Regions from separate parts of the Homo sapiens genome. Here region 2 is linked to region 1. A link means that fine-mapping ties the variant in region 1 to the expression of a gene that starts in the linked region. Tissue or cell type: lymphoblastoid cells. Region 1 holds a variant in brackets; the other region holds the start of a gene. All regions are shown on one strand. Distances are between the middles of the regions.

Evidence for each region. PIP is the estimated chance that this variant, and not a neighbour inherited with it, causes the effect.
Region 2: EEF1A2 starts here. The variant in region 1 is fine-mapped to the expression of EEF1A2 in lymphoblastoid cells (TwinsUK, PIP 0.92).

What each region holds. Positions count from the first base shown.
Region 1 is chr20:63,546,733-63,549,405 of GRCh38, reverse strand. SRMS (src-related kinase lacking C-terminal regulatory tyrosine and N-terminal myristylation sites) reads left to right here and starts at 1,657. Exons shown (of 8, transcript NM_080823.4): 1 at 1,657-2,298. The coding sequence starts at 1,943. RefSeq lists an enhancer at 1,943-2,584. The variant C/T (reference allele first, on the strand shown) is at 1,427.
Region 2 is chr20:63,497,753-63,500,425 of GRCh38, reverse strand. It overlaps EEF1A2 (eukaryotic translation elongation factor 1 alpha 2), which reads left to right and starts at 1,343. Exons shown (of 8, transcript NM_001958.5): 1 at 1,343-1,368; 2 at 2,592-2,673. The coding sequence starts at 2,663. It overlaps LOC124904955 (a long non-coding RNA gene), which reads right to left and starts at 2,144. Exons shown (of 2, transcript XR_007067719.1): 1 at 1,803-2,144. RefSeq lists enhancers at 709-1,278, 1,539-2,334.

The DNA.
Region 1 (2,673 bases):
GGGCGACAGAGTGAGACCCTGTTTCCAAAAAAAAAGTAAAGAAAAGAAATGGTGGGCAAAAGCCTCACCTGCACGTGAGGAGACGGCGGTGGGTGTGGGGAGGAGACGGCGGCGGGGGGAGTGGAGGGGAGGAGACGGCGGGGGTGGGTTGTGGGGAGGAGACGGCGTCGGGGGCGGGAGGAGACGGGCAGCGGGTGGGGGGAGGAGAGGGCGGCGGGGGCGGGAGGAGAGGGCGGCGGGGGGAAGCGCGGGAGGAGAAGGCGCTGGGGCCCCTCGAAGGCCACCCCCAATGTAGTATTTACAATTCTCCACATTTCTCAACACCCCCCACCACCCCCAGCAGGGCACCTCTCTGGTGCAGAGCCTGCCCTGAGCCTGGCGATGTCCAGTCTCCCAGGGCCCCTGCTGGCTCCAGGCTATCAGCCCGGACACAGCTTGGCTGCTGGGGTGCCCTGAGAGCCAGGCCACGGGTGTCACTGCCACCCCACAATGCACACACCAGTCCCCAGACGTGAGGTTTCTGAGAAGCCCATCTGTGACTCCAGGGCAGGCAGGTGCGAGGGGCTTGTCATTGGCTGGACACTGGTCACGCCTATTGGAGGGATGCATTCAGCCACACGCATGAAGTGGGGGCATGGATGCGTGTGAGATGTGGGAAAGGGGCGTGAGGCTCCCTGAAGGCCACCCAGGTGCGGAAGGGGCTGCTGGGGGAGGCCGGCAGGAGGAGTGAGAGACTGCAGATGGCCTCACCCCACCCCCGTGCCTCAGGACCCAGAGGGGAGGTGGGAGGAGTGAGAGACTGCAGATGGCCCCCACCCCACCCCACTCAGGACCCGGAGGGGATGTGGGAGGAGAGAGAGACTGCAGATGGCCACCACCCCATCCTCCTGCCTCAGGACCCTGTACCGTGCTGCTGGGTTTTGCTGGGATTTGCTCCCCCAGTCCTGCCCCGATCTGGGGACCTACCTGAGCGGGCAGAGTTTGCTTCAGCATGCGGGGGCTTGGCGCTGTCCAGGGAGAGGGTGGGAGGTCCCCAGCCAGGGACTCACCCGCCGCCCCTTCTCCGTGTGCTCATCCCCCTGAACTGGGGCCAGGCGTCCGCAGCCTCCACTTCCCCGCAGTGGCCTTTGGGTATGGCCTGGGCATTGACTGACTCAGAAGCCGGTCATCGGGCAGCATGGGGCATCTGGGTGCCTGGCCTGCGGCCGAGCTCCCTGCAATCAGCATCTCGTTTTACTGCATGAAAGCCGGGGTGCTGAGAGCCCCCTCACTCGCCTGTCCTCAGAATTTACTGCAGAGGCCGGAGGCTCGGCACCTGGTGCAGGGTTAATGATGTTAAAATATCTGGCCAACACTTAAATAAGCAGGCAATTTTTCACCTGAGTGCAGCTCAGGCTTGGCAACCACTGCAGGTGCTGAACAGCAG[C/T]GCTTCTCCGTGGAACCCCCACTTCTCCGTGGGCACGGGCGGCTGTTGGACTGTGGTGCCCTTGGGCATGGGCCAGGCCTGACTGGGCAGAGCCATTCCGCCTGCCTGGGCCTTGCAGAGGGCGGGAGAGAGGCTGGCCCTGCCCACCCCGCCCTCCTCGGGCCCCTCCTGGAGCCCGCCCCCGCCCCAGCCCAAGCTGCCCTCTGCCGTCGGGTTGGGGAGGGGACGGTGCACTCCAGACGCCAAGGAGGTCGAGGACAGGAGGTGCTGTCGGTGTGCCTGAGGCAGGGGGTCCGCCCTGCGCCCCACCCAGCCCCAACGCCAGCCCGGACGCCGGTGGGAACCGTGTGCCTCCTGGATCCAGGGGACCTCTGAGTGACCGCAGGGCCGGGGTCCCCTGTCACCCCACGGCCAGGGCAGGGAGCGCTGGACACCGGGTCCCACCGGCCCTGCCAGTTCCTCTTCCGGGCTCGCGGGCTCCCATGGCCCTCGGGCCCAGCGTGGTGACCCCGGGGGATGGAGCCGTTCCTCAGGAGGCGGCTGGCCTTCCTGTCCTTCTTCTGGGACAAGATCTGGCCGGCGGGCGGCGAGCCGGACCATGGCACCCCCGGGTCCCTGGACCCCAACACTGACCCAGTGCCCACGCTCCCCGCCGAGCCTTGCAGCCCCTTCCCTCAGCTCTTCCTTGCGCTCTATGACTTCACGGCGCGGTGTGGCGGGGAGCTGAGTGTCCGCCGCGGGGACAGGCTCTGTGCCCTCGAAGAGGGGGGCGGCTACATCTTCGCACGCAGGCTTTCGGGCCAGCCCAGCGCCGGGCTCGTGCCCATCACCCACGTGGCCAAGGCTTCTCCTGAGACGCTCTCAGACCAACCGTGAGTACCTCGGCCTCGGAGTCAGAGCCTGCCTCGCCCCCAGCTGGGGAGTCCAGAACAACGGCAGGATTTTGAGTTGGAAATCGCATGTCCGTGGCTATCTGTTCATTCATTCGTTCATCCACGCATTCATTCAGGGACAGCTGATGGGCCCCGGGCCGGCAGGTGTGGTAGGAAAACAGCAGTGTCCGCTGTGGGCTGCCGAGAGGGAGAGGAGGCTCCGGCAGGCGTGGTCAGGTCCTGTGGGGGGGAGCATCAGCTGCACCAGCTGGACACCCAGCAGGCGGTTCCTCCAGGACCCTGCCTGGCTGGCCAGGCCCTCCCGCCCTCACACAGGGAGTCCAGTGTTCATGGATCGGTCACTGCTTGGAGGGC
Region 2 (2,673 bases), 49 kb after region 1:
GGGAGAACTGTTTGGCCCCGACCCTGGGCCCCCACCTTTCCTTCCTCCTCACACCTGCCAGCAGGCCAGGTAGGGGTCCAGTCGCTGGGGATCCCCATGGATTTGCCCAGTCGCAGCTGCTGGGCCCGACCCGGGGCCTCCATGTCAACACCCAGTGGGAACTCAGGGCTGAGAGGACAGGTGCCAGGGCTCTGCCCCCACTCAGCACACACCTCCCGAGACCCCGCTGGCAGGAAGATCCGAGTGCGTGGGGGTGGGGGGGCAGCGTGGGAGGGAAGACCTGAATACCTGGGTGAGACGACAGGATCTTGGGGTCTGGAGAAAGCCCCTAACCTTGGTCTTCACACAACACATGGCTGCCACATCCCCTTCCTCACAACCCACGTTGGTCATTACCCGCGTGTGCCAGGACCTCAGGGACTCCCCACTTCCTACAGAGCGTGGCCCGGTCTTTGGCTTGGCATCCTGACCCCATATGAGCATCAGCTACAAGGCGCTGAGGTGCAGCGGGGTGGGGCGCTGGGCGGGGGGGCCTGGGTCTGTCTGGATCTGACTCGCCCTTGGCTGGCGCTGTTTCCCAGCAGCAGCCGGAGGTCGGCGCACCCGGAGGGGAGGGTCCCTGGAAGATGTCAGTGGGTCTGGGAGCGGGCTTCCGGCGTTCCCTGCACCGTGGGAGACCAGCCTCTCAGGGGGAGGGTGGTTCTGCGCTGGATCCTCGGGGCCTGTCATGGTGCGCCCAGGAGGGCAGGCACGTGAGGACAGGGACTGGAAACCAGCAGATTTCCACCCTGAGGCCTGCACCCCCGGGCCTCATTAGGGAGAGCCCCTCAGAGCCGGGCTTCGTTGGTTCTGGGGCGTCCCCCATGAGCAGGGCCGGGGAGGGGCCGGTAGACCCAGGCTCGTCTCCCAGGCTGCAGCCCACCTGCTCCCCTCCCCCGCCTGCCGGCTCCGGTCCTCGGCGTCTGCCCTGTCCCCGGGGACCGCTTTTCGCGGCTCAAGCGTGTTCCTGCCCTGAGCCGGCTCTCGCCCCGTCTCCCGGGCCCGCCGCGCTCTCCCCGCGCCGTCTCCGTCCCGGTCCCTCCCTCCCGCCGCCTCCCTGCCCTGCCCCCCGCCCCGCCCCCGCCCGCGGCGCGTTTCTCCCCCGCCTCCCGCGTCCGTCTTTGCAGCCCGCGCCTCCCGCATCGCCTCGCGTCCCCGTGGCGCCCGCCCGCGCGCGTCCGCGCCCCGCCCCCTCCCGCGCGGTTCCGCATTGGCGTGCTGCAGGGCGCGGTGCACTGCGCCGCCACCGTCAATAGGTGGACCCCCTCCCGGAGATAAAACCGCCGGCGCCGGCGCCGCCAGTCCCTCTGGCTGAGACCTCGGCTCCGGGTAAGGACGCTCGGCCCCCGGGCCTCCGCCCCCGCCCCCGTCTTCCGAAGAGGGACCCCCGGGGCCGGTCCTGGGGGGCAGAGGGTGGCCGGGCCCCGCACCCGCCCCCGCGCGCGCCCGGAGTCCGGCTTCCGGGGGTCCCCGCGTCGGCCGGGCTGGGCCCGGGGTGGGGGGCGGCGCGGGGCGGCGGGGCCGGGTCCTGGGCGGCGATCGCCCCGTAGCCGTGACCTTGGGGCCGCGGGGACCCTGCGGGCCGGGGGCTGATGGGGGTCGGGCTTCGGGGCGCTGGGCCAGAGGACGCTGAGGGAGGTGGTGAGATCTGGGGGCCCTGGCCTCCCCACCCCCACCCGTGTTCCCACCCCAGGGTGGCTTCTGTCCTCTTTCCCTCCCCCAGCCACCTGTCCGCGAGGAGCAGCGTGGGTTTCTCCACTGACCTCTGTGATGGGACAGGGCTGTGACCCAGGGTCCTGAGTCACAGGGAGGGGGGGAGGGAGGGTGCCCCCTATACCCCCACGGGGCCGAGGGCATCTCCACCTGGCACTTGCTGGGCTCGGCAGGGCCGGGTCCTCCTTCCTCAGGCTGGAACAGGGACCCCCACCTCCCGGCCGCTGTCTGTCCCTGTGAGAGTCCGGGAGGGGGGTGCCTAGAGCTATTCTGGGTTCCTAATCTGGGCAGCGCATCTCCGTCGGGGCTCTGGCCCAGCCTGCCGGGCAGGGATGAGGGGAAGATGGCGCCGTCCCTGCCTGAGGAGGGGAGTGGGGAGCAGTGGCCATCTCTCCCCGGTGGCAGCGGGTGGGGGTGGGGCGCCGTGTCCCTGGCCCTGCCGCCGGGGAGGGGAGTGCGCGTGCAGGACAGGGCCCTGGAGCGCTGGGCAGGTGACTCATCACCCGGCTCTGCTGGTCACGGACGTACCCAGCCTGGCGCTGCGTGGTCTCTCCAAATGGTGGCTAACCCCTTCCCAAGGAGCAGCCCGCGGGCTCCAACGCCCAGTTATTTACAGCAGATGGGGCTGTTTGGGCTCAAGTGTGGGGTGGGGGCAGTGCACAGCCTCTGCTTGCCCTGGCCAGGCCCAGCTGTGGGTGGGGGCCCTTCCCTCCCCACCAAACATGGGGGCTTGGTTTGTGGGCAGGGATGCCTGTCCAGCCTGTGCCAGGACAGTCTCTGCTGGTGTCTCCCCCTGGGGCTCCCCATCACCGGTCTCCCCACCACCACTGGCCCCACAGAATCACTGCAGCCCCCCTCGCCCTGAGCCAGAGCACCCCGGGTCCCGCCAGCCCCTCACACTCCCAGCAAAATGGGCAAGGA